Homo sapiens: one gene and its partners. The protein of the gene in region 1 interacts with the protein of each later gene in a pairwise test. Each region holds a gene or a part of one and is shown in the gene's direction. Other genes may lie near its edges.

The links.
Region 2: the proteins of TMED8 (region 1) and CIAO2A interact in binary tests that used the Homo sapiens proteins (3 or more experiments, as listed by UniProt).
Region 3: the proteins of TMED8 (region 1) and DEFB129 interact in binary tests that used the Homo sapiens proteins (3 or more experiments, as listed by UniProt).
Region 4: the proteins of TMED8 (region 1) and C10orf67 interact in binary tests that used the Homo sapiens proteins (3 or more experiments, as listed by UniProt).

The regions. Positions count from the first base shown.
Region 1 is NC_000014.9:77,366,666-77,374,800, reverse strand, and holds part of TMED8 (protein TMED8), read left to right. Parts: intron 1-891; exon of another isoform or gene 892-1,110; intron 1,111-8,135.
Region 2 is NC_000015.10:64,089,704-64,097,699, reverse strand, and holds the start of CIAO2A (cytosolic iron-sulfur assembly component 2A), read left to right. Parts: upstream 1-3,861; 5' UTR 3,862-3,931; coding exon 3,932-4,055; intron 4,056-7,384; exon of another isoform or gene 7,385-7,502; intron 7,503-7,996. Other genes in the region: SNX1 (sorting nexin-1), read right to left, coding at 1,528-1,686. UniProt on the Homo sapiens protein: Component of the cytosolic iron-sulfur protein assembly (CIA) complex, a multiprotein complex that mediates the incorporation of iron-sulfur cluster into extramitochondrial Fe/S proteins.
Region 3 is NC_000020.11:222,816-230,812, forward strand, and holds DEFB129 (beta-defensin 129 precursor), read left to right. Parts: upstream 1-4,442; 5' UTR 4,443-4,473; coding exon 4,474-4,531; intron 4,532-6,462; coding exon 6,463-6,956; 3' UTR 6,957-7,071; downstream 7,072-7,997. UniProt on the Homo sapiens protein: Has antibacterial activity.
Region 4 is NC_000010.11:23,201,650-23,209,386, reverse strand, and holds the end of C10orf67 (uncharacterized protein C10orf67, mitochondrial), read left to right. Parts: intron 1-5,131; coding exon 5,132-5,214; 3' UTR 5,215-6,691; downstream 6,692-7,737.

The DNA.
Region 1 (8,135 bases):
TAATTGGGCGTCTTTTATTACAATTCTTTATCTACTAAGAAACCTGCTTGGAGTTAGGAACGGAATCTCTCTTGCTTGTTTATTTATCTAGAGCCCTTGATGTTGTGTTTTAGAGGTTTCGCAAATATTTGCTGAGTTTGATGGTGAGAGAAAGTCTGAATGCAGAGATCTGGATGAGCATCTAATGAATGTGAAGAATTAGGGTTGAGATAACCAAGAATGTTCCTTGGGTTAGAGCAATGGTTTTCAACCAGGTACGATTTTGTATCCCCAGGGCATGGCAATGTTTGGAAACATTTTTGCTCGTCACAACTGGTGGCAGCTATTGCTGACATCTAGTGAGGATAGGCTAGGGATGTTTGCTAAACATCCTGCAAGGCACAGGGCAATCCCCATAACAAGGAGGTATCTGGCTCCAGATGTCAGTGGTGCTGCTTTTGGGAACGCTGTGTTAGAGTTAAGCTGGGCTTCCAAAGCAGTGTGGAAATACTATATTTGGCCTGGACCAGAGGCTTGGGCGTAAACCCCAAAAAACTGCTTTAAACTTGGAATTCGTTTGATTGGATCCTTCTGCCATCTTCCTCTAGAAAATGATACAATGAGTAAGCAATAGAGCTCTAAGAAAGAATGAAATTTAATGAGATTTCTCTCACCCTTTCAGAGAGAAAACAGCAGTAAGAAATGGAATTGGATATTCAGGTGTTCTGTTAGTCCATTTGGAATACCTGAGACTGAGTAATTTATAAGAAAAGAGTTTTAATTGGCTCATGGTATTGCAGGGTGTACAGGAAGTGTGGTGTTGGTATCTGTTTCTGGTGAGGGCCTCAAGAAGCTTAGAATCATACTGAAAGGGGGAGCAGGTATGTCACATGGCGAGAGTTGGGAGTGAGAGAGAGAGAGACGGGAGGAGGTCCCAGACTCTTTTAAACAACCATATCTCAGGTGAACTAACTGAGTGAGAACTCACTTATCATCAAGAGGATGATGCCAAATCATTCATGAGGGATTCATCTCCACGATCCAGTCACCTCCCACCAGACCTCACCTCTAACATTGGAAATCACATTTCAGCGTGAGATTTGGAGGGAACAAACATCCAAGCCATATCAGGTATTGTTGAGTTAAGGGTTTTGGTTTTTTGGTGTATCTTATTCCTTCAAAGCAGGAATGTGTCATTATCCAGAATAACCATAACTTGTTTTTTAAAAGTGTTCTCTGCAGAGAATACCTATTGAGTGTCTTCATGTTTGTTAGCTGAGGTTTTGGTGAAAAGGAAGGAAAGGATTTATGTTCTTATGAACTAAGCTCTCCAGTGGTCATGGTGTTCTTATTGTTTTATGCATTGTAATTGTTTTTAATAGTCTTTTATTTGAGGCACCTGGGTTCTTCAGTTCCCCAGAGGAGAGATAAATCATTCTTTAATTATGAAACTATCTGAGGCATACTTGTTGCATCACTTAAAGGCAGGTTTTTTTGTTTTTGTTTTTGTTTTTTTTTTAAGTTTAAAGGAAAATAAAACTCTATTGTGATCCTGAAGTCAGCAGTAGAACTTAGTTTGGTGTGTATGTCCCCCAGAGCTATCAATACATTTAGATGTTGAGGATGGAAACAGGTCAGGTAAACTTGTTCATGGTTCTAAGGTAGAAGTTAGAATATTACAATAAGTCTTTTTGCAGTGATGAAAATATTTCATATCTGTCCCAGCTACTCAGGAGGCTGAGGCAGGAGAATCACTTGAACCCAGGAGGCAGAGGTTGCAGTGAGCCGAGATTGCACCACTGCACTCCAGCCTGGGCGACAGAGGGAGACGCTGTCTCAAAAAAAAAAAAAAAAAAAAAAAAAAAAAAATATATATATATATATATATATATATATATATATATATATATATATAATATCTGTGGCTATTTCAATGTGCATGAATTAAAATTCAAAATTTGGTGGCTACCATGTTGAATGGTAAGAATAATAGGGAGTCAATGACAAACAGCCTTGATGTTTTTTAGTTTTCTATTGTGGTTTTATGTCAAAATGTTAACATTTTGTCTGCCTGTGGCTTTCTTTTTCTTACAGTGGTTGTGTTTTTAGTGTCCAGATAGTCGATTAGTCAGATAGTTGATTATTCATGTCGTGATTCAGTCTAAACAGTATAACCAAAGGTGCACAATCTGAGTGACCTCTCAGGAGCATGTCCCACTCAAGGGCTGAAGAGAAATTGGATCACATGGTCACTAGATTTGGTTGGAACATAAACTCACTTAATTTGTTTTCGTTTAAGCCTCTTGAGTCTGTAACCACATAGCCTGCTTTTAGTTCTTCTGCACTGGAATCTAAAATGACAGGCTAATTATCTCTTTGCAGCCTGTTTACTGAGGGGGAAATCCTCTGAGGCCTGTTCTAAAGAACCCTGACCTGATATTCAAATGCTTTTGAAAAAAACCTGCTTTTTGGTTCTCCTTGTAGGGAAAGTACGAAGTACACAGTAAGTTTGAATCCCTAGCATGATCAGAATGTCTGAAACCAGACCCTTTGGTAATGTAGAAAGAAAATGCACATTTAAAAAGTTGTCAAATATAAAATAAGTTATTTTAAGGAAGTTCCTTTTTTCTCTCTCACCTTTGCTTTAGTGGCCATCAATGATAAATTAAGTTATTGTTAAGCTTCCATTTTTCCTCCTCCGTTCATTGTTTCCGAGATTTCGGCCACTGAGGAACCATGGTAATGACTTTGCCACACTGGAGAATACCGTTACAGTATTAGTTATTTACTATTTTTTCTTGACATTGACATTTAATTGACATTTTGATTGACACTTAAAAGTTTCATTCTAAATAATACCTACGATATTACTAGTTTGATATATCCATTTTTCTTAATATATACTAGAATACATATTTTTAAAAATAAAAAACATTTCCCCACATACCATCTAAATTTGCAAAGTCTGGCCTGATTTCTCTGATCTCTTCTAGGAATACTTTCAGAATTGGCTTATATTTGGCTAATATAATAAAAGCTATACTATAGGAAAATTGGCTTTTTCTTCTGCATAGTGGCTTAAATTTCACTGAAGAACTTCAGGAAACCTAAAAGGCTGTGCTCATAATTCTCTCTCACTGAAACAGCGCTGCATCTCCCACACTTTATACTTCTGGAAATAAAGTTATGTTTTTCTTTCTCCTTTTCTTACTTCCTGCCTCTCTGAATCCAATTATAAGTTGTTTTACCAGTAGTTCTTATGTAATTTAGGGCATTCTTTAAAATTAAAAATAATTTAGGGCATTCCTTTAAAGTTAAAAATCAAAAGCTCAACTCCTTATGGGATGGAAAGAAAAAAAATCAAAAGCATATTTTTTTCCAGTATACATTAAGTTGTTAAAATGCTATGAGAAGTGGTGCTTACCATGTGAAAAATGCTCAACCTAAATCATAATAAGGGAATTGGAAATCCTAACTACACTTGGTAGTTTGCTAACTCACTTTGTTGGTCGGTGTGCAGAAGCAGACACTCTCATGCTTTGCTAATGAGATTGTAAATTGGTACAGATTCTGTGGAGGGCAACTTGTCAATATCCATCAGAATTACAATATATGCCCCTTTGACTCATTCTTTCCAGGAATTATAGATTTATTTATTCTCCTGTTTAATGACATAGATACAAGGTTATTATGGCATTGTTTGTAATGGTAATACATTATGGAATATTCACCCAATGAAATACTAATCAGCTGTAGAAAAGAATGAAGAAGCTTTTCATGTGCAGTTATGGAAAGGTCTTTGAGATATAAGTGGAAAGAACAAAGTACACAGTAGTATGTCCAGCATGCTCCCCCCGACCTTTTTTTTTTTCTGAGACAGAGTCTCGCACTGTTGCCCAGGCTGGAGTGCAATGGCGTGATCTTAGCTCACTGCAACCTCCGCCTCCCGGGTTCAAGCGATTCTCCTGCATCAGCCTCTCAAGTAGCTGGGATTACAGGCACGCACCACCACGCCTAAGCATGCCCATTTTTTGTGTAAAAAAGTGAAAAAGTATACACACACACACACACACACACACTTTTTTTTATATGCATAAAACATCTTTGGAAGACTACACAAAACCAAATAACATTGATTGCTTTTGGAGGTAGGGACTGACATGGGAGGAAATTTTTCACTGTATACTTATATGCTTTTTGAATTTTGAATAATGTGGATAAATTATTCAGAAATAGTTAATAAAAATAGTCTTTAAAATATATAAATATATGTGTACATAGATAGACACACACACAAACTTGGCATGAGACTTCACTATGTCTATATCCTAAATAAGAGCCTTTCTATAGGTCTGTATTCTGTTTCTGCTCATCAGGAACTGACATTTTCTAGACCTTTTTCTCTCAGTGAATTTTTTTATAAAAGGTTATAAGTCTCCTTAGAGATTAATTTTGTTATTCTTTAAATCCACTACTGTCTTTCATTATTTTTGTGCTAGTTTCATTTCTGTCTAAAAATTTAACCTTTTTGAAGTCTTCATTACGATCCAAAGGACAGGATAAGCCAAAGGGGGATAGACATAGTAGATAAACTGATATTATTAATCAATGACAGAGAGAGGGCAGAATTTTTTTTTTTTTTTTTTTTTTGAAACGGAGTCTCGCTCTGTCGCCTTGACTGGAGTGCAGTGGTGTGATCTCGGCTCACTGCAACCTCCGCCTTCTGGGTTCAAGCGATTCTCCTGCCTCAGCCTCCCGAGTAGCTGGGATTACAGGCATGTGCCACCACGCCCGGCTAATTTTTGTATTTTTAGTAGAGATGGGGTTTCACCATGCTGGCCAGGTTGGTCTCGAACTCCTGACCTTGTGATCTGCCCGCCTCGGCCCTCCCGCCTCCGCCTCCCTTACAGGCATGAGCCACCGTGCCTGGCAGAGGGCAGAACTATTTTTGTTTCTATTTTATTCACTAAGGTATATTCAGATTGATATGGGTAAATAGGCAATATGGATTTCTGTTTTCAGTAATAGCAGACTAGGTAATTATCTCTCATCAGGGACAATTAGAAAATATGGGTGAAATATAAACATCTGCTGGAAGATACTGGAGAGATAGAAAGATCATGAAGAATTACCTAGCTGTGATCCATGTGAGAGCTATAGAGATCCAAGGACAAGAGTCTATTTTGGGGCTCTTTTGTCTCCTGAGGGTACATGCTGGATTCCTGAGTGGGGAAGCTGAGTGACAAGGTCATGAAAAGTGCCTCTTTGAACTAAAGTAACAGGAAATGGATTAGTGTTCAGGACCCGTCAAGGGGGAGCCTGGTGAACTCCATTTCCTTTGGGTTAGGGCCATGAAAGGCCATGCCCTAAAAGTAGGTCATTGCAGGGAGTGCAACTCAGCTTCAGAAACAGCTAAGTTCATGAATTGGGATTTTTGGGTGGCTTTGACAAGCTGGTTCTAAAATACATATAGAAATAGAAGGCCACAAATAGCAAAGACACTCTTGAATAAGACAACAGGGAAAGATTTGTTCCATCCAACATCAAGACTTATTTTAAAGTTTTTAAAGAGTAGTCAGGCTCTAGGAATAGAATCAAAAGCTTAGAAACATGTTTATACGGACACTTGCTTTGCAACAAAGATTGTTAACATAGAGCAGTGGGTAAGGTAAGGTAAATGTTTCTGGGACAATTGAATATTCTAAGAGAAAGGAAAGTAAAGAAACGTAATCTTTACCTCACACATCATACACAAAAAATCAACTCGGTAGATTATAGAACAGTATGTGAAAGGTAGTACATAAGCACCTACCTATAGGATATGGGAGAATATTTTCGGATCTCAATATAGTGAAAGACATCTTAGACAGGACATACAAAGACTAAGGAAGGCAAATTTGATAAATTTTGAGTACACAAAAGTACTTTGGTTCATCAAAGGCCACCATTAAATGGGAAAAGTCATGTCACAGAGTGGAAGCAGGTAATTATAATACATATACCTGACAAAAGGTTTGTATCTAAAACTCCTATAAATAATAAAAAGGGACTGGGCTTGGTGGCTCATGCCTGTAATCCCAGCACTTTGGGAGGCCAAGGTGGGCGGATCATGAGGTCAGGAGTTCGAGAACAGCCTGGCCAATATGGTGAAACCCTGTCTCTACTAAAATACAAAAATTAGCTGGGTGTGGTGGCACGTGCCTGTAGTCCCAGCTACTAGGGAGGCTGAGGCCGAAGAATCTCTTGAACCCAGGAGGCGGAGGTTGCAGTGAGCCGAGACCATGCCACTGCACTCCAACTTGGGTGACAGAGTGAGACTCCGTCTCAAAAATAAATAAATAAATAAATAAATAATAAAAAGGACAATCCAGTAATAAAATTGGCAAGAGACTTGGAGAGGCACTTCACAAAAGAAGATTTTTAAATGGCCAAGAAATACGAGTCATTGGTGAAATACAAACTAAATTAGCATACATCTACCAGAATGGCCCCCCAAAAAAATTTTAACATGACCAAGTGTCAGAGAAGGTCCAGAGTAATGAAATGATGCTACAATGCTGGTAGCATTATATTTGGTACAACCCCTTTAGAAAATAGTTCGGCATTATCTACTGAAATTTAACATTCAAATTTCTATGACTTAACCGTTTCCATTCTGACATTTATATCCAACATAAATGTATGCACTGTAGCCAAGACACAAGAATATTCATAGCAGCATTATTCATAATAGCCCCAAACTGGAGTTAACCTAAGTATCATCAACAATAGATAGATAGCTCATGGTGGATTCATGGAATAACGTACAGCAATGACAGTGAACAAACTGGCTGGGTGCGGTGGCCCATGCCTGTAATCCCAGTACTCTGGGAGGCTGAGGAAGGCGGATCACCTGAGCTCAGGATTTTGAGACCAACCTGGCCAACATGGTGAAACCCCGTCTCTACTAAAAATACAAAAATTAGTTGGGCGTGGTGGTGGGCGCCTGTAGTCCCAGCTGCTCAGGAGGCTGAGGCAGGAGAATCGCTTGAAGCGAGGAGGTGGAGGTTGCAGTGAGCCGAGATTGCACCATTGCACTCCAGCCTGGGCAACAAGAGTGAGATTCTGTCTCAGAAAAAAAAAAAAAGAAAGAAAGTTAACAAACCTACCTACAATTACATGGGTGCATTTTTTGATGCAGATTTTGATGGATGCATCAATCAAAATAATGACTGAAATAAGCAAGACCCAAAAGAAAACATTCTTTTTCATTTTCCTTTATATGGAATTCAGAAAACAGGCCCAGTGAAGCAACAGTGTTTAGGAATGCTTACTTAGGTGGCCCAGCTATAAAGAAAGCAAGGAAATAATGTCCATAGTTGGGATAGTGGTTTTCTTACCTTAAGGAGGAAAGGATCAGGTAATGATTGGGAAGGTCATGAGTGGTGCTTCTGGAGTGTTAGAAGTGTTCTATTTCTTGGCCTGGGTGGTGTTTGTGATAATTTATTGAGGTATACACTTTTGTGTACTCTTCTACATTTGCGTTATATTTCACAATAGAAAAGATTTAAAAAGTTTTTTTTTTTTTTTTTTTTTTTTTTTAGACAGAGTCTTGCTCTGTCACCCAGGCTGGAGTGCAGTGGTGTGATCTCGGCTCACTGCAACCTCTGCCTCCCAGGTTCAAGCGATTCTCCTGCCCCAGCCTCCCAAGTAGCTGGGATTAGACACACACCACCATGCCTGGCTAATTTTGTATTTTTAGTAGAGGCGGGGTTTTACCATGTTGGCCAGGCTGCTCTGGAACTCCTGACCTCAAGCCATCTGCCTGCCTCGGGCTCCCAAAGTGCTGGAGTTACAGGTATAAGCCACTGCGCCCAGCCTAGAAAAGGTTTTTAAAAGAGTCAGTGTATAATGTAGTTAGTAAGAATGCTGACTTTGATCTTGGATTGCCTGAGTGCATATCACTTCTATTCGTATTTGCTGGTCATCTTGGGCATCATGATTTCTCCGAGCTTCAATTTCTTAAACTATAGAAAGGGAGTAATGATAGCATCAACTTCAGTGGTTCTATAATTCAGTGCAATTCAGTGACTATTCAATATGGTGATGCCTACAAAAAACTTAGAAAATAATTGACATATAGTAAGTGACCACTGAGTCTTGGTTATAATAACAAA
Region 2 (7,996 bases), on another chromosome or scaffold:
TAAATATTCTCATAAAATAGCCCAAAACATCTCTACTGGTTCCATAACTGATTACTGATTTCCACATTACAAAGATTATTTTTTTCTAATACCTAACTCTTATTAGAGACCCGGATATTTATTACTGAGGCAGGAGAATAGGGTCTGGAGGCAGGGAACTTAAGGGCAATTCATGCTGAATCAAGGAAAAACACCAAGGTTTGGGGGCAGGGAATCTGAGGTCAACTTACGTTAACTTTCTAAAAGAGAAAACACCAAGGTCTGGGGGCAAGGAATCTAAGGCCAATTCGTGCTGACTTCCCAAAGCTGAATTCCCAAAAGGAACCCCCTGGGTTTGGGGGCAGGGAACCTAAGGCCAATTAAGGCCAACTTCCTAAAGCTAAACCAAAAGGAAAAAACCCATCTGCCCACGCCCGAGTGGCAAAGGATCAAAGGCTACTATCCCTGCAACCCTCCCCATCCACCACGTCTCACATGGAAAGGGAGAGTGCCTTAGACTGGCCGCAGGCCAAGCAGGGACCATCCGTTCATCTGCACAGGACGCCAATTCACCTCGGCCTTTAGCCACAGACCAAATCCTTCATCCAGATAAGGGGTAACCCATAGGAACCATAAAAGGAGCACTTAAAATCCAGAAAACTTTGTAAGTGGGCTCTTGAGCCCCTTGCTCCGGCCCACTCACACCCTGTGGGGTGCTTTCTCGCTTTAATAAATTCCTGCTTTCGCTGCTTCGTTTGTGTTTCATTCCTTTGTTATTTTGTGCGTTTTGTCCAATTATTTGTTCAAAATGCCAAGAACCTCGACAACCTACACTCAAGGGCCTCCTACCGGTAACATTACGGGAAACACCATTTCCTCATCACATTTCAGATTTGCTCCCAGTGAGGTACGTGGGCACTTGAACACATCCCTTTAAAAAGGAGAAAGCTTTCTGATCTATGTAGTGATTTATCTGGCAGTGCCTTCTGTCCACCAGCCTCTGGCCTGATTTTCCTAGAGATCAGAAGAATCAACATAACTTTTGTAAACTAAGATCCAGAAAGGGCCTTTGGTTATTATCGGTAAATGCTGGGCTAAAGAAAGAACTGGTGGGCGGGTCACCACCCCAGGCTAGTCCACATAACGCTATTCATCTTAGAAGCAGTAAGACGGGGGAAAGGTCTGCATCCCATTCGCTTATTCCGTCCTACTGAATCTGCCTTGGCAGGACACGACCTGCAAAATAACCCCGTGGATCCGTGGAGTGTCACCACACTGCAGGGTCAAAGGACGGCGTCGGCGGTTCTCGGCTGTTAGGGAGCTAGCCGACGAAGGCACCACAACCCTCATTCTTTACTCTTCCCGCCTGGGGGCCGGGAAGCCAAGCTCTACCGCTTCGAGCACATCCAGGGTCCCCGGGGCCCGGACTGCTGACACCGAGGCAAGGTCTCACCGGGCCCACTCTGCCCAACCTCCCCGATTCTCGCTTAGCCTCTCTTCCCTTTCGGGGTGCCCTCCCGCCTGCTACCCCGAGGGGTGCAAACTCACGACCACCGCGGCGCCGGTGAAAATGTCCTCCCCCTCGGTGTCGCTGTCCCCAGCCTCGGGTTCTGATCCCCCGGCCGCCCCCTCGGACTCCGGCTCCAGGCCGGGGAAGGGCGGAGGCAGTCTCTCCGAAGCGCTACAGCCACCACCACCCGACGCCATCTTCTTCCACCCGCGGCGGAAGCCGCAACAACAACTTTATCGAGAGATAGCGCCGTGAGCAAAGCGATCCAACGGTGCGAGGAGTGGGAGGGCCGCAAGGGACCCCGTGGGATCCGAGGGGCGGAGACCTAGGGGCGGGGCTTAGGCGCTGGGGGCGGGGCGGCACCCGGCCAGCTGAGGCTGCGCAGCAAATCCGAGGCCTGGTTCGCGATGCTGAGATATTAACGAGTGGGGCCAAAGGGGCAGAAAAGTAGGAGTTAGGGGCTGCTCAGGTTTCTAGGGCCCTTTGTGCTCTGGATAGCTTTATCCAACAGGCTTCTAAGAGTTCGTCTGAATGAAGGAGTGTCACTAAAATGTTTGAAAACCTCTACATGCCATCTACCCATGCCAAGCACAATGCCCTCACAGAGAGTCAATAAATATTTCGATTGAGGTATCTGAACAAGACTAGAAGAAAGCTTCACCACTTATTCCTTGAGCAACATTCAGTTAATTCATTAAGAAATACAGATACTGAGCATCTACTGTATGCCTGGCACCTTGCTGTGAGTTTCAGATACAGAAATCAGGTATTTAATCGACAGTTCGACATGTTCAATGCTATGGTGCCCTGTGGGAGCACAGGGAAAGAGATAATCAATTCTGCTTGGAGAAGTAGGGAGGCCTCACAGATGAAGTGAGGCCTCAGTGTCCTAGATTTGGCTGGAAAAATGTTAGGATTATCCTCTCAATTGCTGTGGAGTAAGTGGAGTGGAATAGACGGCAGGGAAATTATTGAACCCTGACCAAAATTTCCTTGGGACCTAAGCAATTCATTGTCTGGTGATCCTAAGGCCTACATTAACTAGACAAACAAGACTGGAGTTTAAAGATAAATGGGCATGTTAGCATGGGACAATTCTGCAAGATAATCCTATCTTCTCAATAGAAATGGCATTTGTCACCAACTTTGACAAGAGGTTTAGTTAGTTTGGTTGTAACTGCAAATTCAGGGATGGACTCCCTCACAGGTCATGTGAGCTGTTTGAAGGCGGGGGCAGCGTTTTATCTTTGTATCTTCCATGCCTATGGATCACCTATGGCAAATTAGTACCTACAAATTTGATCGGAGGGATGGATGGATAAAATAAAATCGATTTTGTTACTGGCATCCATCACACCCACGAACACCAGAGGGCTTAAGATACACTTTTTTTTTTTTTTTTTTTTTTGAGGGAAGTCTCGCTCTTCTCCCCCAGGCTTGAGTGCAATGGCTCGATCTTGGTTCACTGCAACCTCTGCCTCCTGAGTTCAAACGATTCTCCTGCCTCTGCCTCCCAAGTAGCTGGGATTAAGGCCCCTGCCACCACGCCCAGCTAATTTTTGTATTTTTTAGTAGAGACGGGGTTTGCCCATGTTGGCCAGGCTGGTCTCGAACTCCTGACCTCAGGTGATCCGCCCGCCTCGGCCTCCCAAAGTGCTGGGATTATAGGCGTGAGCCATCGCGCCCGGCCAAGATACACTTTTAAGGATGGCGATCTCCATTATGTCACCACTGTACACATTAGACACGGGAAAACTTATGTTCTAAGTTGTCTTTGGAGGCCATTAGCAGAAATATTCGTTCAAAGGTGGGAAGCTGTGCTGGACTGAGTCCCTTAGGAGACGAGAAAGCCAAAAAGCCCTCCCCATGCCATACCTGACTACCTCACTGGCTTCCCATGACATCCCTTTTCACAGCAACTGAAACCTACTTCCTGTCCGATCAGGAAGTAAGAAAGACGTTGGCTGTCAGCGGATCCCGCGGAGAAATAATTGTAAAGAGTCTCCGTGCTGGAGAACTCAAGATCTCCTTTCCCCTACCCCTTCAGGATTCATCTTTAACTTATCACGGATACTGAGTGAGTCAGTCGCGGTTAACAGACCGTTACATCCACTTCTACCAGGCGGACACTACAAGTCCCAGAATACAATTCGCTGCCTTCCGAAGAAAATAGCTCACGCATCCCAGCATGCAATGTGCTGACGAGCCGCGAAGATTGTTTTTGTCCCGCCGAAATCGAGCAAAGCACGCTGGAACTTGTAGTCCTTGAGGCCCCTTCCCTAGGTCCTTCGAGCTACTCCGTCTGGCCCCGCCTTTTCTCTGCTCTCCTGAACCTTTAGGCTTGTCTCGGCCCATTTGAAGACCAGGAAGTTGATCAATCCCGAGGCTGCTGAGAGACGGTGGCGCGATTGGGACAGTCGCCAGGGATGGCTGAGCGTGAAGATGCAGCGGGTGTCCGGGCTGCTCTCCTGGACGCTGAGCAGAGTCCTGTGGCTCTCCGGCCTCTCTGAGCCGGGAGCTGCCCGGCAGCCCCGGATCATGGAAGAGAAAGCGCTAGAAGTTTATGGTAATTAATTTTACCCAGCACAGCATTTGGCGTTATAGGTGCAGGCCGGAGCTGAGGGGTGCGGGGATGATGGCCTCACCTGAGGGCTGGGAGGGGAGACCTTTTTTTTTGTTTGTTTGTTTGTTTGTTTTTGGCCAGATCTTGTCCGGGGCGTAGCAGGCGCTTTCTTCGGGGTCCTAAGTCACGTGGGGGGTGTGGGTCTTTCTGGGAACTGGGCTCTTCGTAAACCTGGGGCAAGCCGAACCCAGAGGTCTTAAAAGCTTCATTCTCCACGTGTGGCCTACGTCTTAGTAACCATTCCAAGACTTGTGGGGAGACCACAAGTCTAGGGTGCCTGGTTAGGAAGCAAAGCTGGCCTGATTGCACTACTAGAGCCTCGTTCTCTAGCTCCTGGACACGCACTCTTGCTACCGCTGAGGGCGCTTGTGGGTGACAGTCGAGTTGGGGACTGGCCCAAGGTCACAGCCACTCTATCCGGCAAAGTCAGTAAGCAGAGGTCCCCGAAAGAAGAGAACGAGATTGGCTTCTTGTAGCAAGGCCTTGTGTACACACACATAACGCACACACACACATACACACTCTTCCATGTTGCATATTAAATATTTTCTGTTTAACCCTTGGGGCCATCTTTATTGTACAAATGAGGAAACAAAGGTTAAAGAACTACCTGGAGGTCACACTGCCAGTAAGGAACAGAGCCAAAAAGCAAAGGCTGTGCCTACTGGTTCTAACCGTAATGCACTTTCCACCACTTCACAATTGCCTTACAACTTTTTGTTTGTTTGTTTTTTTAATTATGTTGTATTGTTTTTGAAAACCGAAAAGACTGGATATAATATTGAGAGATCTAACCATAGAATACAAATATAATTCAAGTAAGGATTATAGGCCAGTAGAAGGAAGCCAGGGTTAGGAAATACTCTGGGAGCTAATTTGGTTGACCTCTCTTACTAGAGGCAGGACTTACCTAATCAGCCTCCAGGCAGATGATAATTGTGAGTAAAATGATCTCCACAAAGCAGACCACATCCCTGTCCTGCCAGATCTCTGTCCACATAATCTAGGGATGGTAGGGCACTGGAGATACAACTTTGGAAGAGAGTGACTCTAGTCTTCAAACTGATATTGAAGGAAACCCATATATGCAAAAATAGAGTATGTAATAGAAGGCTGTAGACTGAATAAGAGATACAGAAATTCAGAGAAAGGGAGATACTAGTCTCTGACTGAGGGGATCTAGAAAGACTTTGAAATAAAGAGAAGGAGCCACTTGAGTTGGGCCTCAAAGAATAATTAGGATCTAGATATGTAGAGGGTCAGAGGGCATACTAAGAGGAAACTTAAAAGCATGGAGGTAAGAAGATAGGAAATGACAGATAGATGGGGCTATAGGATAGGGTTTGTGGTTAAATGTGAAGATGTGGTTGAACATTGTTCTAGGTAGTGGGATGCAGTTGGATACTGAAGGTTTTAAATATAAATGAAGAATTTTAATAGTGCAGTGCTGTGGAAGAATGTTAGTGTGGGGAGTAATATGAGGAGAACTTTCTTTTAAATTTTTTTTTTTTTTTTTTTTTTTTTGAGACAGGGTCTCACTCTGGTAATCAGGCTGGAGTGCAGTGGTGCAATCACTGCTCACTGCAGCCTCCATCCACCTCCAGGGCTCAAGCCATCCTCCCACCTCAGCCTCCTGACTGACTGGGACCATAGGCATGCACCACCATGCCCAGCTAATTTTTGTATTTTTTTGTAGAGATGAGGTTTTGCTATGTTACCCAGGCTGGTCTTGGACTCCTGAGCTCAAGTGATTTGCCTGTCTCGGCCTCCCAAAGGCTGGGATTACAGGCATGAGCCACCACACCCGGCCCTTCTTTCTTTTTAAAGAAGTAAAGCCAAACCTCTCAAATCTAGAAACTAGAAAACTAGAGAAATTTAATAAGGATGATATTTAATTTCAGGGTTTAGTGGCATATAAAGAATATAATACAATTAAATGAGCCTTATGGGGAGAAAGCCTAGTATGAGAGGCAGAAAATTCCTTTTCAGAAAACTCTGTTTCCCTAAGTCCCATGATAACACAGCTCTGTGAAAGAGAAGCTTTGTCGACTTTCTTGCCTATGTTTTCCAATTCTGCTTCTTTCTTTCTTTTTTTTTTTTTTTTGAGACAGAGTCTCTTCTGTCACCCAGGCTAGAGTGCAGTGACACAATTTTGGCCCACTGCAGCCTCAGCCTCCTGGGTTCAAGTGATTCTCCTACCTCAGCCTCCTGAGTAGCTGTGATTACAGGCACATGCCACCACACCCGGCTCATTTTTGTATTTTTAGTAGAGACGGGTTTTTGCCATGTTGGCCAGGCTGGTCTTGAACTCCTGAACTCAGGTGGGTGATCCACTTGCCTCAGCCTCCCAAAGTGCTGGGATTACAGGCATGAGCCGTCATGTTTGGCAAAATTCTGTTTCTAATCAAGTGACAAGCCCAGGAGCAAATTAAAGAGAAAATAGAATTTGTTCTTGTTTTTCCCAGTTGCATTTCTGATTACATATAATTTTGTGTGATAAATAATAAAACAAAACTTCAGATTTGAGAACCTCAAGCACATTCTATGTAAAATTCTGCTTCTTTCCTTTCTACCTCACCATTTCTCTTTATTGTTCTCCTTTCCTTCATCTCTTTCTCCAGCCTCAGAGTAAGAAAGAAATCTTGTCTTCTCCAAGGCCAACTGAGACTTCTAAATATTTGATCCCACTCCCTTCTGCTTATTTTACCAGTCTCCGCTCCTCCCAACTTATATTTTCAATTTCTCTCCTCAAAGTTGCCCTTATCCTTGTCATTGTTCTAGCTTCCTTATAAAGTCATTGTCCTTTTCATGTCCCTCCCTTCCCAGCTAAGGCCCTAGGAAGACATTTTCAGTTCCTACTTGCTTCCCCTTTTGCAAGCTGGCTTCAGCGCACGCACTCTCTACTGAAACTGCTTTCTTACAGCTGGCTGGGGTGACAAATGAAAGACCTGTTTTAGCTCTCATGAGCCTGAATTTTTCTGCAGCATTTAATGTTATTAACCATCCCTCTCTTCCCTCCTCTAGTTCTTTTTGCTTTTGTTTCTCATTCTGATCCCTAAGTTAGGTGCTTCGCATGGATCTGTTGGGTCTCTTTTTTCTTTATACCACTGATTCTCATACTGGGTTGTACCTAAGAACAACCCGAGAAATTTTTAAAACTCAAAGGCCAGCAAACCAATTAAATCAGAGTCTCTGGAATTGGGGCCCAGGCATCAGGTTTTTTTGTTTGTTTGTTTTTGTTTTTGAGACGGAGTTTTTGCTCTGTTGCCCAGGTTGGAATGCAATGGCGGGATCTCGGCTCACTGCAACCTCTGCCTTCTGGTTTCAAGTGATTCTCCTGCCTCAGTCTCCTAAGTAGCTGGGATTACAGGCGCCCGGCACCACGCCTGGGTAATTTTTGTATTTTTAGTAGAGACGAGGTTTTACCATGTTCACCAGGCTGGTCTCGAACTCTTGACCTCAGGCGATCCACCCGCCTCAGCCTCCCAAAGTGCTAGGATTATAGGCCTGAACCACGCGCCCGGCCTTGTTGTTTGTTTTGAAACATTCTTGGTAATTCCAATGTTCAGCCAAGGTTCTACTTATTCTTTGTGAATCCTGTGGGTTTGACAACCACTCTAGCTTTGATGCTGTTTTAAACTCTATGCTACAGTTTACCACTTGCTAGAAAACTCCATTGGATAACCCCTTAAGCACCTCAAAATCATTCTGTGTGAAATTGAACTCATTTGCTCTATGCCCCACCCAAATTTCTTCCTCGTTCTGTTTCTTTTAGTTCTGCCAGTGTTGTCCTAGATACTATTTTAGGCCTGGTGTTTTTAGCTGGTATCATTGGTTCTGCTTTTTAGTCTGAGTCTAGCAGCTGATGATGAGTTACCAGCTGA
Region 3 (7,997 bases), on another chromosome or scaffold:
ATCAAATGTACAGTGAAGCTTGGGTAGAAGAATGATGAAATCATTGATGCTTTACAAAAAGTCTATGGGACGATGCCCCAAGGAAGTCAGCAGTTTGCAAATGGATAACTCATTTTAATAAGGGATGAGATAATATTGAAGATGAAGCCACCAGCAGCAGACCACCCACATCAGTTTGGGAGGAAAAAATTAATCTTGTTCATGCCCCAGTTGAAAAGGACTGATAATTAACAGTAAAAACAATTGTCAACATCATAGACTTCTCAGTTGGTTCAGTTAATGGAAATCTGACTAAAAAATTAAAGAAGAACAAACTTTCCACTTGATGGGCGCCAAAACCATTGTGCCAAAATCAGCTACAAACAAGAGCACAGCTTTCAATGAAACTTTAAACAAGTGGGATCAAGATCCTGAAGCATTTATTCAAAGCACTGTAACAAAAGTTGGAATCTGGCTTTACCAGTATGACCCTGAAGACAAAGCAAAATCAAAGCAAAGAGATGGAAGTGATCCAGTCCAAGCAAAAGCTGACCAGTTAAGAACAAAAGTCATGTCAACAATTTTTGGGGGTGCACAAGGCATTTTGCTTGTTGACTTTCTGGAGGGCCAAAGAACAATAACATCTGCTTATTATGAGAGTGTTTTGAGAAAGTTAGCCAAAGCTTTAGCTGAAAAATACCCAGGAAAACTTCACCAGAGAGTCCTTCTCCAACATGACAATGCTCCTGCTCATTCCCCTAGTCAAACAAGGGCAATTTTTCAAGCGTTTTGATGGAAAGTCATTAGGCATCCACATTGCCATCCTGACATGGCTCCTTTTGACTTCTTTTTATCTCCTAATCTTAAAAAAAAATCTTTAAAGGACACCAATTTTTCTTCAGTTAATAATGTAAAAGAACACTGATGTGGTTAAATTCCCAGGAAGCTCAGTCCTTCAGGGATAGACTAAGTGGCTGGTACCATTGCTTACAAAAGTGTCTTGAACTTGATGGAGCTTATGTTGAGAAATAAAGTTTATATCTTTATATTTTTATATTTTAATGTCATCTTCCACAAACTGTTTGAAGTTCCCTCATAACTAAAATGTCCCCACATGCTCAGATAAGAAACACATTTCTCAACCAATGTTTCTCAGATATTAAAGTACATACAAATCACCTGAGGATCTTCCTAATACGCAGATTTTGATTGACTCATTCTGAGATGAATTGAAATCCTGCATTTCTGACAAGCTCTCCGGAAGTGTTGATGCTTCTGGTCTTTCCACCACACTGTGAATAGCAAGGTTCAAACTAATTCATATGTCAGAAAAGATGACACAGTGGAAATTGAAGTGTTTATTTTTAAGTGAATGATTATGATAACAAAACACTGCAAATAAAAACTTATGAAGTCCAGCTAAAGCTGCATATAAAGGGAAAATTAGAGTCTTACCCACTTGGTTATACTGAAGAAAAGCTGAAAATGTATGAGATAACAACACAAATAATAAGTTAGAAAACAATAACAGAATAAAATGAAATTTTATTCAAAGAAGTTCAAAGAAAGGAAGATAAAGCTGAGAGGAGAAAATAATTAAATATTTTTTAATTTTCATAATATTTAAAATAAAATATAATTAAATAAAAATCAAACATAGAATCAACAAAACCAAAAGCTGATTTTGAAAAGACCAATTAATTAATTCACTATAGGAATAACAAAGAAAAAATTGAAAACACATTACCCATATGAAGAATAAAACACGTAGCCATCACTACAAACTCTATAGATAGTAAAGAGATCAAAGGACATATTGTGAGTGACCTTATGCCAAAAATGAAATTTAGAAGAAATAAACATTACTTGATGTGACCCAAGAAGAAATTGAAAATTTGACAGTTCTAAATTGTTAGGGAAATTAAATCTTAAATCTTTAAACTCAGTTGAGTTTTTCTGCTACATTCCAATGTCTGATCCCTAGCTCTATGGGTTTCAACAGACAGTTGTAGAAGCAGCAGAAAAATATCCTTGCTCTTATATTACAGCTACCGTGGTGTGTTCTTGAAGTCCAGCATGTCTAATCATGGGATCCTGTCACCCTACTTTCCTGACTATGAAAGAACTAGCAGATTCTCTGCTGGGCCAGTTTGTTGGAATGTTCTGGAAGTCATTCTGGGAGACCAAGCCCACAGTCAGCTTCTGTAGAGAGTTTATAAGCACATAATTCTGAGTATTAAAAATATTTCTGTTGAAAATAGCTAGTGTTTTTCATTTCCCAACTGATACACATAAATGCAACACTTTGCACATGTGAATAATTTGTCTTTTTACAAAATTATGCTACACTGTTGATAGATTCATTCCATATATACATGCAACATACTTAATTTTTCATAACTTTCCAATTCTTATTAACTCAACTTTTTGTTCCATAATAACTGTGCTTCTCTTTGTACCAGTACTTTCCATATTCTTATTGCTTTGGGACTAGCAAGACACAATGAGGTGAATAATGTTATTTCAATGCATCTTAAAACACCAGAAACCAATTAATATGCGATATTCAGGATTAACTGATTCCAAAGGGCTGTTAATTCCATCTCTTGATATTGACAAGTAGTAAGTAAATATGCCTAAGCTTGATTATTTTTGTTCATAGAAGTAAAATATACATTTCATAAAGTGAAAGTTCATAAGATTTGCTTTTATTGTTTTAAAAAATAACAGTTAATTTAAACAAAACTGAGGAGTCATTGGATACTATAGTAGCTAATGAAATCCTAAGAAGACATGAATTTCAGGAAGGCGAGGAACCAGGGAAACTCTTGAAACTTGAACAATTAATAATATTCAGAGCCAATGAGCTTCAATATCTGAGTTTCTTAGGAAATGTCCCAAATTAGCAGGGGAAAGCATCTGATTGGTAGGCTTGGTTCTATTGTTACACCTGGATCAATCAGCTACGACCAAGGAATCTGAGCAGTACACTATAAAAATTGCTGCTTTTAATTATTTCAACCATTGTGGAAGATAGTGTGGCAATCCCTCAAAAACCTAAAGTCAGAAATACCATTTGACCTAGCAATCCTATTACTGGGTATATGCCCAAAGGAATATAAATGGTTCTATTATAAAGACACATGCATGCATATGTTCACTGCAGCGCTATTCACAATAACAAAGACATAGAATCAACCCAAATGCCCATCATTTGGCCATTTGGATAAAGAATGGATAAAGAAAATGTGGTACATATATACCACGGAATACTATGCAGCCATAAAAAAGAATGAGATCGTGTCCTTTGCAGGGACATGGATGGAGCTGGAGGCCATTATCCTTAGCAAATGAAGGCAGAAACAGAAAACCAAATACTGCATGTTCTCACTTATAGGTGGGAGCAAAATGATGAGAACACATGGACACACAGAGGGGAACAACACACACTGGAGCTTACTGGAGAGTGGAAGGTGGGAGGAGGGAGAGGATGAGGAAAAATAACTAATGGACACTAGGCTTAATAGCTGGGTGATGAAATAATCTATACAACCAACCCCCATGACACACATTACCTATGTAACAAACCAGCACATCCTGCACATATACCCGCGAAGTTAAAAAAGTTTTTTTTTAGTTGCTACTTTAAAAGGATGTGGGAATCATTGTAAACTCAAAAGTTAAAGATGTGCCAAGAGCTGTCTCCCACGAACTTGTTTAACAAACGTACTGACTTTGTATGTTGATCCAATACCCATGCTGGCCACTGGACATACCAGTACAAACAAGGCAGAATCTTCACTCTCCTCTAGCTCTTCTAATTCTCATGCACTAAGTGCCAACCTTAGCATAACTGGGCTGACAATCAGTGAATCAAATATCTAACTCTTATCCTACTCCAACGTTAAGAAAGAGACATGCGACTGGGTGCGGTGGCTCATGCCTGGAACCCCAGCACTTTGGGAGGCCAAGGTGGGCGGATCACTTGAGGTCAGGAGTTTGAGACCAGCCTGGCCAACATGGTGAAACCCCGTCTCTACTGAAAATACAAAAGTTAGCTGGGCATGGTGGTGCATGCCTGTAGTCCCAGATACTCTACTTGGGAGGCTGAGGCAGGAGGATTGCCTGAACCTGGGAGGCGGAGGTTGCAGTGAGTCGAGATCACGCCACTGCACTCCAGCCTGGGCAACAGAGTGAGACTCCATCTCAAAAAAGCAAAAGAGAGACACATGCAAAGGGCTTGCTCTTTCTTTCTCATCTTACCTATCTTATGTTTTCCTCCAGGATCAAGAGCAAGGAATTTGTTGCATAGAGGTGTTCAAGAAAGGGTGTTTTCAAACAGAGTCAGAAAAAACACAACTATACTGCGAGCAGCATACAAACCTGCTTTGGCTGCACTTCACTGCTCATGGCATAAGGCCACGAAGAGGCCAATAAAGGCTGGAGCTCAGGAGCATCAACCCAGATTCAAGGCTTCCTCTCTGGCACCCAACCATGAAGCTCCTTTTTCCTATCTTTGCCAGCCTCATGCTACAGTACCAGGTGAACACAGGTAATGTGGATTCCCAAGTTTAAGATGGGTAGATGAGAGGAACCAAGGATTTGGCTGCCCATGACAATGGAAACCCAAAGAGAGGAGACTGAAAGATTAGCTGTTCAAAAAGATGGCTAAAGAGCTTACCTATTGTATCAGTCATGCACTGATACATTCTCATAGGCCCCAACTGCCAGATTGTGTCCAGTGGAAACACCCAGGAAGCTACAGAGAAAGCAGGGTATTTTTTGTCTATTCAGAAACTATCCAAAATATAATGCTGCCTTCCTGCCCTGTATATGTCTATCATGCTAAGACTAAGCCCAGGTCTACCTCCTTTTAGCTCTATTTCTATCTTAAAAGCCCTTTTTTTTTAAAAAAAGTCCTGGGGTACTTGTGCAGGATGTGCGGTTTGTTACATAGGTAAATGTGTGTCATGGTTATTTGCTGCACCTACCAACCCATCGCCCAGGTATTAAGCCCAGGATGCATTAGCTATTTTTCCTGATGCTCTCCCTCCACCCAACAGGCCCCAGTGTGTGTTGTTCCCCTTCCTGTGAAACCACCTCTTGAAGCAAAGTTTCCTATCAGTTTGTGCTTGGTGTAGAAAGGAGGAAGTTCTTCCCTCATGCTCAAAAAAAAACCCTTTCAAGATCAAGTAAACAGGCCTGTGTTCTCCATCTTGAATTCTTTCAGGTTTTCCAGAGCCTTTATCGCTTCTCTCAGACTTTGTCTTCCTGAAAACCCCCAAACTACCATAAGGGCATCTAGGAATGCATTATAGCAAAAGGCTAAGCCAGGGGATTAACCATTGTTTTTGGAAAAGAAAGGAGAAGCACTGAGATTTGTTTCAGAATACAAGAATCATCCAGCTATTTGAAAAAATTAGCAAAGGGTTTCGGGGCAGGGAAAGTGGAAGTGTCAAAGATGCTTCTAATGTTTTTATCTTCTAATGTTTTTATCTTGGGACCCTAGGAAAAGGGTAGTACCATAAGCAAGTATGGCTGTGTCATCTTGGGTAAAGTCACTTAACCACTTTGAACTTCAATTTCACATGAGTATAATGGGGTTAATCAATGCAGCTGATTCCAATATAAGAATTTTTCTGTTTCCCGTTTGATGAGAAAACAATGTGGAAATGTATGCAAATATGCTTTGAAAATTAGCAGATGCTACATAAATCTCTTGTAATTTAGGGAAAATCATTGGGTTATTAAGATGAACAAGGGAGAAAAGCTTTCTTGATTCAGAAAAAAGAAACACGAGACATTAGGATGGAAAAGTCATTCAGCAGATAAAGATAAGGTACTAAGCCGAGCAGGAAATTTAGAATTATAGATAACAATACAGAAGTTACCTTGGTGGATATGAGGTTAAGGCTAGGATAATGAATGAGACTTCTGAGAGATAGAGTGTCCAAAGAGGCTAGAAGAGATAGAACACCATGCTTCAGGAATCACAGATCTAGTGATTGTTGAGAAGAGAGAAGTCATGGGCTACTGAGTTTGGTGAAAAGATAAGACTCCTGAAAATTCTATTGATTCTCTTTTGAACTTCTTTCTTAAATTAGTTTTATGATGGACTTGGCTCTCATTGGTATTTCCCAAGATTATGGAGATGGGATAGTGATGTCTGACAAGTACCTAAGATGCTAAGTTGAAGGTCTAAAATTCCATCCTAAAAGCAAATAATTACTCTATCATCTACGTGCCCTTTGCTTCTTAAAGTTACTCAAGGAAGGCAGACTAAACAGGAAATTTACTTTGGATTCAAGAGGGGCATAGAGACGCTCTCAGCCTGCCCATTTGCCTTCATCAACATTCCTAAACACTGGGCTTAAAATGTAGTATGAGTAAACTCTCTCTTAGTCTATCCATCTCCCACTAGCAGTTTTAACATCATCTCTAGTTATTAACCTTGGCTCAATGGCTTTCTCTTTTTTTATACAGAATTTATTGGCTTGAGACGCTGTTTAATGGGTTTGGGGAGATGCAGGGATCACTGCAATGTGGATGAAAAAGAGATACAGAAATGCAAGATGAAAAAATGTTGTGTTGGACCAAAAGTGGTTAAATTGATTAAAAACTACCTGCAATATGGAACACCAAATGTACTTAATGAAGACGTCCAAGAAATGCTAAAACCTGCCAAGAATTCTAGTGCTGTGATACAAAGAAAACATATTTTATCTGTTCTCCCCCAAATCAAAAGCACTAGCTTTTTTGCTAATACCAACTTTGTCATCATTCCAAATGCCACCCCTATGAACTCTGCCACCATCAGCACTATGACCCCAGGACAGATCACATACACTGCTACTTCTACCAAGAGTAACACCAAAGAAAGCAGAGATTCTGCCACTGCCTCGCCACCACCAGCACCACCTCCACCAAACATACTGCCAACACCATCACTGGAGCTAGAGGAAGCAGAAGAGCAGTAATGTGGATCTTTCCCTTAAAACTCCAAGTTCCTCTCTATTTTTGCTATCTATAAAATGACATAGAACTGTTTCCTCTGTCATCAGTCATTCAATAAACACTGTTTGAGCACCTACAGTTTATGTAATATTATCATTCTCACAAGAGCCTCACAGAGGGGGTAGAGCTAGGGAGGGATGGAATTGTTTAAGTTTAGATGCCCAGGAGAAAGTAAGCCTCAGGAGGGTGACTACAGCATCGAGTTTGTCCCAAGCATGGCCTAGATTAGGCCTCTGTAGCAAGCATTTATGTCTCTCATATGGTGTGTTTTTCCTGGAGCAACAGTAAGGAAAGCATCAGGAGATGTATTTTCTTTTCTCATGTATTTGGGAGGAAAGGCCCAAATGCAAAATAGAATATGTAGGAATCAGAAAAAGGTTAAATTAATTGTAATAATATATTTTTGTTTCGTTTTGTTTTGAGACGGAGTCTCACTCAGTTGCCCAGGCTGGAGTGCAGTGGTGTGATCTCAGCTCACTGCAACTCCACCTCCCGGGTTCAAGCAATTCTCCTGCCTCAGCCTCCTGAGTAACCGAGATTACAGGCGCACACCACCACACCCAGCTAATTTTTGTATTTTTAGTAGAGACGGGGTTTCACCATGTTGGTCAGGCTGGTCTCGAACTCCTGACCTCGTGATCCGCCTGCCTCGGTCTCCCAAAATGCTGGGATTACAGGCATGAGCCACCACACCCAACCAATAATGTGTTTTATTGAATGCAATATATCCAAAACATGATCATGTTGACATGTAATCAATGTAAAAATTATTTATGAGAGAGTTTACCTTTTTTGGACTACATCTTTGAAATCTCATATGTGTAATTACACATAGAGCACATTTCTATTCATACTAGCCACATCTCAAGTGCTCATAGTCATATATGAATAGAGGATTTCATAGCATATTGAACAGCAACAAGGCTAGAGAGTTTTAGGGCACAAGTAATTATAGTGACTCTTAGGCATAGGGGATGCCCCTAATCCAGAGGAGACAGGCATAT
Region 4 (7,737 bases), on another chromosome or scaffold:
CTCTTGACCTCCAAGACACCAACCTGTCCTGGTTCTCCTCCTCCTATTCAGAGCACCCTTCTCAGGCTCTCCTGCTTGATCAATTTTGCCCCTGCTCTGTGTCTTAAATGTTGAGGTTGCTAAGGATTTCATATTTCGCTTCACTTTTTTACACTTTGTTATTCCCTGTTGAATCCTTCAGCAGATCTCTATGGCTTTCAAGATAAAATCAAGTTCTTCAGTTTAGCCTACAAGACCATTCGTAACCCCTCCCTCTCCCATATGTGAGCTTTCTAACCTAGTGGTCACAAATGACTTGCAGTGCCCTGCTGTTTCATGCTGTTCCAAGCACCTGTGCCTGTACACATGCCTTCATCTAGGTGGTGGGTCTTCTGCCTGGTCTCGCTGAGCTTCTGTGTTCAGCTGGTCATTGATGGACTTATGCTGGCTGTCTGCTGGGGTGACAGGGGTAACCAGACCTCATGTCCCTCACTATCAAGTAGGCTAAGCCAAGCTTGCTTTCATGGCACTCTCAGGGTTCTCCAGAGCAGCAAGAGAGCAGGCTCCAATGCACAAGGATTGTTCAAGTCTCCGCTGGGGTCACATTTGCTCTTATCCCATTAGCCAAAGCAAGTCACAGGGCCAAGACCAGAGTCAATGTGTGAGGGAACTGCAAAGGCTGTGGATAACAAGTGGAACACACTACTTAGCCTTCTAGGTTTTACCTTCTCTTTGTTAATCCATTCACTCATTCATTCCACAGACTTTATGAAAACCTAAGCAAAGGCCTAGGCGAGGCACTGAGGATATAGAGATTTTTCTCAGTGCCTGGAATTTATGTTCTAAGACAGTCACTCAATGACTAGCACATTCTGTAAAAGTCAGACCAGGATTTGTGGAAGTCCCATGAGGTAAGGTGGGCCTCCTGAGGTCTGTCTGCATTTTTCACCATTTCTGCGGAAATCGCTACCTTGCTCTTCAGAATTATATATTAATAACCACTTTTCCCATAAGAATAATCAGAAACCAAGATACAGAAACAAAATTTTAAATATTTTCAGTGTGTATGTTTTTAAAACTGTGACTGAAATATTACTGCATTTCTTTGGGAACCTATAAATTCACGCATGAAACTGTGTGATAACAGCATTTCCACTAAATATGCAGATGTCAAGGTGAGTTACAGGTGAGTTACGAGAGCATTTAACATTTCAATCCTTAGGCTCCAAATTGTTCACCTGTTCATAAGAAAAACTAGCTGCTTGTAATTTCAAATTCGTACGTGCAAAAATTGCATAGACCAAACGTTCGAATGAAAATCCTTTTAGAGACAACTACCTAACGCTTCCATATTAAGAGTGTTTATTTTTCTCTAGGATTAGAACAGATTGCATTGGCAGCCCGGTCTTTCATAAAGAGGGGGGTGGGGAATAGAGTTGGGCCTTCATTTTCTCACAAAAGGCACAATGTGAAGCGCATCTGTGAACATTGCATAATTTGTTATGTTCTACACAGAGGTGGGTTTTTGTTGTACACATACCAAAGCTATTTGGTGCCGTTTCACCAATGATCTCTATTCAGGTCCAGAAAAGAAATTGGCCTCAGAAGAGTGAAAGGAAAGTAAATTTTTCTTTAAAAATTAGATACAGATTATCACTTCAAAATGCAGGAGGGAATTTTACAAGTGCCGGTGTACTGATTAGCTTTCCAATGGACATCCAGCCCTTTATTAAACACATGCTAGCTGTGGTCAACTGTGACCGATGTGGTTTATTACTCTCCAGAAGGGCTGAACTGAAATCACCCATCTAATTTAATTGAGAAATGTTGGATGAACTTGAACTGTTTCATGGACATGAATGACCAGAGAATTTATTTGATGAGACGTTAAAGGCTGAATACGGTAACTATCTCTTTGATGGTTTAGTACAGTCGATTCATTAGTTCATTAGCATGCCTTTCATATTTTTCATTACTACCTGAGCAACCTAAATGAAAAAGGCAAAAAATAAAAGTTTTTGTACAGCGTCATTCTAAAAAATTAGCAACCTTCCCTTTATTGGTAAATATTTGTGATCATTTTTAATGTAGTTAACTCTTTTCAAAGTGACATCAGCTTTCCAGTAAAGGAAGTTCACAGTAATTAAATTGTGTGGACATTAATAAGTCCACTGGGATTTTTCATGTGATAGTCCCTAAATTATTTTCAAAATGTTGTCTTCTGACTTCATTCATTAAGACAAAAAAAAAAAAAAAGCCTTTAGGAAGTTGGCATGTTATTCACCAAACAAGCTCCTTTGCATTTTCTCGTAAACTGGGCAGTGTGAGCTGTAATTGGTGGCCTTGCAATGAAACATTTGTAGTAACTTTATCAAGAGTATGGCACAGAGGTGGCATCAGATGACAGTGCTTTCTCTTCATGTGTGTCTGCTAACATTTAAGATAGATTCTGCTTTTTTTCCAATGACTAATGCTGAGGCATAACTTGGAGATATACATCTTTTTTAAACTATATTAAAATATTATATCTTTTAAATTATCCACAGAAAGAGCTAGAAACTCTAATAATAAATTATAAACTCACACTTCATGTAACTAGTGACTCTTTAAATGAAATTTTTCATTGAAACTTTGTCATTAAAATAGAAAGGGCTTTGGCTGTGCCCATACAAGCATAATAAATTGTATATGTTTGTGATACTGAATGACTTTTACCCATATGCTGCACTGCAAAGCTACATGAATGAGGCATTTACCAAATCAGGCCCACCACATTAAACAGAAAAACAATCTTTATTCATGGTAACTTATCAGTTTCAATTAATCAACCCTAACAATGGAAATTCTGATGTGTTCAAGCAACTTGAAAGCAATAGGTCATCTCCAGGGCAGCATTGTTGTGTCTTTGTGCCGAAGATTTCAAACAAAGCAACATCTTCAATAAATATACATGCATATACATATATACATGTGCATATATATACATACAAATGGACAGTTACAGCTGAGCCCTGTGGTGCCAACAAAAATGCATGTGTATTTTTTATTATTTTTATCACAGCACATGTAATTGTTTTCCCTCAAGTATTACTTTTTGAGCTCTGCAAGTTTAAACAAAAGGAAAGAAATTTCCATTGGATGACCATCCTTTCAGTTTCTGTACTGCTATGTGAATAGCATTGTGCAAACCATTCCATTGGTTTTGAAAAGGGGTAACCATTGGTTTGATTTGGTTACACGGTTTAGTAAAGAGCTCCCTCCCACTGCCTTAGGGTCTGTGAAAGGTCTGTGACCTGTTTAGAACTGCCAAGTGAAATGTCATGTTGCCCCTCCCAAATGGGAGTATCTGCATTCATTTGATCAGTATAAAAAATGATTGGGGATGGCGAGATCAGTGCTTTTGAATTGCAATTTATAGCAGTTTACAAAAATGCACATTGTTAGAAAAGAAAACATGGAAGTGTTTCTTTCTAAATTGCATTACCTGTGAAATGTCATTAGTCTTTTAAGGATATTTACATCCTTTTTTTATTATTTAGGAGACTTACTTCAACTAAAGAAAATAAGAATTTTATTACCTTATGATTTTTTGAGTTGTATTTTGGTTTTAGTGTTAAAATTTTTTAAAAAGCAATGTTTCTGAGTTATTCATATAAACATAATTTATCATGTCCATTTATTGATTTTCTAAGATAATCTTTGTTAATGGGTTGTATTAGTAGAAGATTCTTAATTATCTTTCCCAGATTGTTCAGGACATTTATTTGTTGGTAAATTCCTCGTCTGCTGATTTCTAATAGACTAAAATCTCCAGTATACTTAACTCTAGCAAGTTTCCACTATTCCTTCAACATTGTACTACCAGAACTTCTTTGTAAGATGAGTACTTTTCTAAATTATGGAACCCATTGACTCATCTACATGTATGCATAGTTTTATAAAAAGAAATTTCATTTCTTTTCATTAAATGTGCAAAAGAATACACGAAGCTTATCCAGAAAGTTTAGGTAGCCTGTTCAAGTTCATAAGGGCTGAATGCAGCCTCCTGGAGTTTCTGGGATGCAGAAAACAATGCCCTTTATGCTATTTCCAGGCATCTCACAAGCTCTGTATCTTTATGGCAGTGTGTAGCATTGGACATTACTTTAAAGAAAGCTTTGAGTAAGAAAAGTTACCTTGGGAAAAGGCCCTTGGGGCTTTCCTGGTTGATACTTGACTAGAAAAAGAAAGGCCCTTCTGCAGAAAAGACTTGACCCAGATAGGCTCTGGAGCACTCCACTTTGAACCTCCCAACCATTGAAAGCCGAGGTTGTCACGTTTTTATCTTTGTTCATGTTAAGCCTTGGAATGACAGCCTGGCTCCTCTGTGTTCCCCTCTCCCACTGCCCCGGCTATAAGTGTCCACATTGACACCTACCGGTGACCGCAGGCTGCAATGCTTTGTTGCCTTCTCCACGCTCCCGGCTTTCACTGGGATTAGCCCAGGGCCTTTGTTCCCCTTCAAAGCTGGAACATCACATCCCATGTTGTGGCTTTCCTGTCTCAGACCCCCAACGCTTTCCTCACAATTTACGCACCAGGTAAATGTTCCTCCCCACAGGGCAGAGAGCCCAACGTTGAGGTTAGGGGGTGGGGACATCTTCCCATTCCCCAGTTTCAGAGCCCAGGGCCAATGTGGTTTCCTTTCCTTCTCATTCATAATTTTCTATTTCACAGGCCCCGTCTATTTCCATTGCAAGGCAAATGGAAATTTAAAACTTGGAAAAATCAAATCCCTGGGCCCAAACACAGACAACTCTTCCCACTTTTTTTATTCTGCTACAACGGCTTCAAGTAGAATGTTGAGTACTGGCCTTTATCAGGGGCACCTGAGACCATTCCTGCAGCCTGGGGCTGCCGGAGAGCCCCAGACTGTCTCAGAGCAAAGCTTGGCTGGCACACGCTGTCTGGAAGGCCAAGGATAATCTGCCTGCCTGCCCTACCTCCTTCACCGTCTCTCTTCCAGGTTCCTGAAGAGGCTCTCAGCTAGGGCCAGGGCTGGGAAGACCCACTAAAAAAAATGACGCAAAATGCTTTGGGGGAAGAGTGGGAAGTGGTCTGTGTATGATAAGTAAAACAAAGTTTATGTCTGTCCACCTTTCTTCACGTTTAGGGAAGTTGTCGGAATCCCCAAAAGAAGAGTCCTTGGAGGAGCCCTCCATGCGCCAGAGCAGCCCCGCAGAGACTGTTGATTAACCCAGCAGAAGCCTGGGCTGCGCAGACGGGGCCTCAGAAAGAGTGGCCTCGCCGTCCTGGTGTAAGGTGCCTCCCTCGGAAAGGATACTATCTCCAAGGATTTTCTAAACTAATTGTTTAATCTCTCCAGATTATGTATATTAACCAGCACTGCGCTCGAATAGACCTCAATGCGCGCCTTGTGCGCGCTCCTTTCCACGCCTTTAAGGAAAGCCCTGGCTGGTGCTGGGTGAGCGGGGCGCACTGAACCTCCGGGGCAACCACATCCATTCAGGAGCTCCGGGGACTCAGAAGAGCCCAGGCGTCTAAGAGTGGGAAGGGACGGACTTTAATTAAAAAGTTTGACTCCCTCTCTAATCCAGTCTTTCTATACCAAAAGCATCAACCTGTTTTGCTGTCTCCTCACCCAATAACTAGTCCCCATGAAGGTAGGTCATGAAGACTACAGGGAGATCGTACATTTCCTCAAGCAAGATTCATTCTTATCTTACCCCGGCACAGGGCACCTAGCCGCATCTTAAAGGCTGTCAGAAATTCTTTAGTAAGTAGGGAAACTCTTTGGAGTTTTGCTTCCTGGTAAGGATGCAAACCAAGATTCTGCTGGAATGCCAGACACCGTTTACCAAAAGGCGGGTTTGCTTTTCTTCCATGCGTAATGTCCAACTTGGTTCTTTCTATTCCCCTAACTACAAGTAAGGCCTTGTTAAGAGCCTGTATCTGAATCGTAGGCTCTGGATTACAGAATTCTACAGTTATTTATTAAGTCTCAGGAAATATATTTGTGGTAGTTGTCACATAAAGCTGATATACTTTAGTTCAAAAGAAAGCTGCAGAGGTGATTTATTTGTGCGTAAAAGGAACAAGATTTAATTGGAGAGAGACGTGTTCTTTTCAACGCAAGTACATGGGATGGTATAGCGCTGTGGAGCGTTATTCGAGCTTCATCTACTATGCACTATATGCCGCTGTCTCCAAAGGAGTGTTGCCCTAGAAACTTGTTTTAAATCTGCTGCTATATATCAACACCTTGTTTTAGCAGTCCTTGGCTGAATTACAGTTACACAGTTTGGCGCTTCTTTCAAATTTCCTCCCATCAGTTTGGCTAAAGAAAGGAATTTTTCTCCTTTAGAAATGAATTGGCTTAATTAGTAAGTAGATTAATGGCAATTGCTGGTGAGTTGGTTTCCAGCAGAGTTTCACCAGAGAGGGTTAATCGGAGTCAGGTCTGGAATCTTTCCCAGAACTGGCTGCCAGCCATTTCCACCAACCAATCAACCCTACAAGAAACAGAGGAAATGAAATAAAATTTGTATTCTCTGTGCCATCGTCCTGGACAGAAATTCCTTGGAAGCAGCCTCCTGGTTGGGTGTGATATCAAACTGCTTCATTTCAGAACTTTAATAGAAACTTGAACCTTCAAGATTTATCTGGGTACCAAAGCAAAGTTTCAAATGGCACAATAAAGGTCTCCACAGAACCCTGGATGTATTGGAAATTTCTGAGGCTCTCAGCCAATTTCAGGTTGGGAGAAATTGCAAACCACCCAGGTCCTGCCCTATATCTGTTGTCCATCAGAAGTCCTTCAAAAGTTTTGCTGTATGTTTTGCAGCCTTTTTACTTTTTTACTTATTTTTTTCCCATAGTGATGAAAATGCATTCATAGTTTAACTTGCAGCTGCATTAGTCTTACAAAAAAAAAAAAAAAATCCCTGCTGAGAAATGCATATAATAGGAAAAACAGATCGGCTGGACAGCAGTGTAATTAATGCCAGAAAGGGCTGAGGCCGGTTTCATAGTTTGTCTTTTGAGGATATCAAGACGAGACCTGGTGAAAAATGACGCATGCTTTAGCATTTCAGAAAGCTGGCAACTGGCAGCGCTTTTCCTTTTTTCTTTGACTTTCTGCCGCGGAACAAAGAGGTCCGCAGAACTAGCTAGGTTGTAATGAGTTCTATGTCCCTAGCACATTAAGTGCATCATGGAAACATATTGTATCGAAATAGTTTGGAGGAGAATACCGGGGATGAAAGAGAATGGGTGCTTTGATCAGCTCCCTGGGGTCCTGAGCACGCACAGACTGACTTGCAAGGAGTTATTCAGCTCCAGCTAGACACACTTACAACACCATTGAAAGAAATTTGCATATCTGTAATTTATCACATTGGTCCAGAACATTATTGCAAGGTAAATAAAAGTTAGTTGAATAAAAAAAATCAATCATCGCAGATATAGAGAAAACTGTGAAGCCAGTCTTTCCACTAAAAAATAGAAATAAATATGTCTATAAAACATAGTGACTTAGAAGTAGCTGACTTTATTTTAAAATGCCTTTAGAACAACAGGTTATGCACTGGCAAAAACAAGAGTGGCCACAATTTCTTTGCCTTTCTGGTTTAGGGGAGTGTGTTCACTGCTTCCCACTGGAATAAAGTCAAAGTTGAGATGTGTTTGGCCATAACCAGCCTGCAACATGCAGACAAAAATTAGTACACACTTTGAGCAGATATGAAAGACGACTTAATC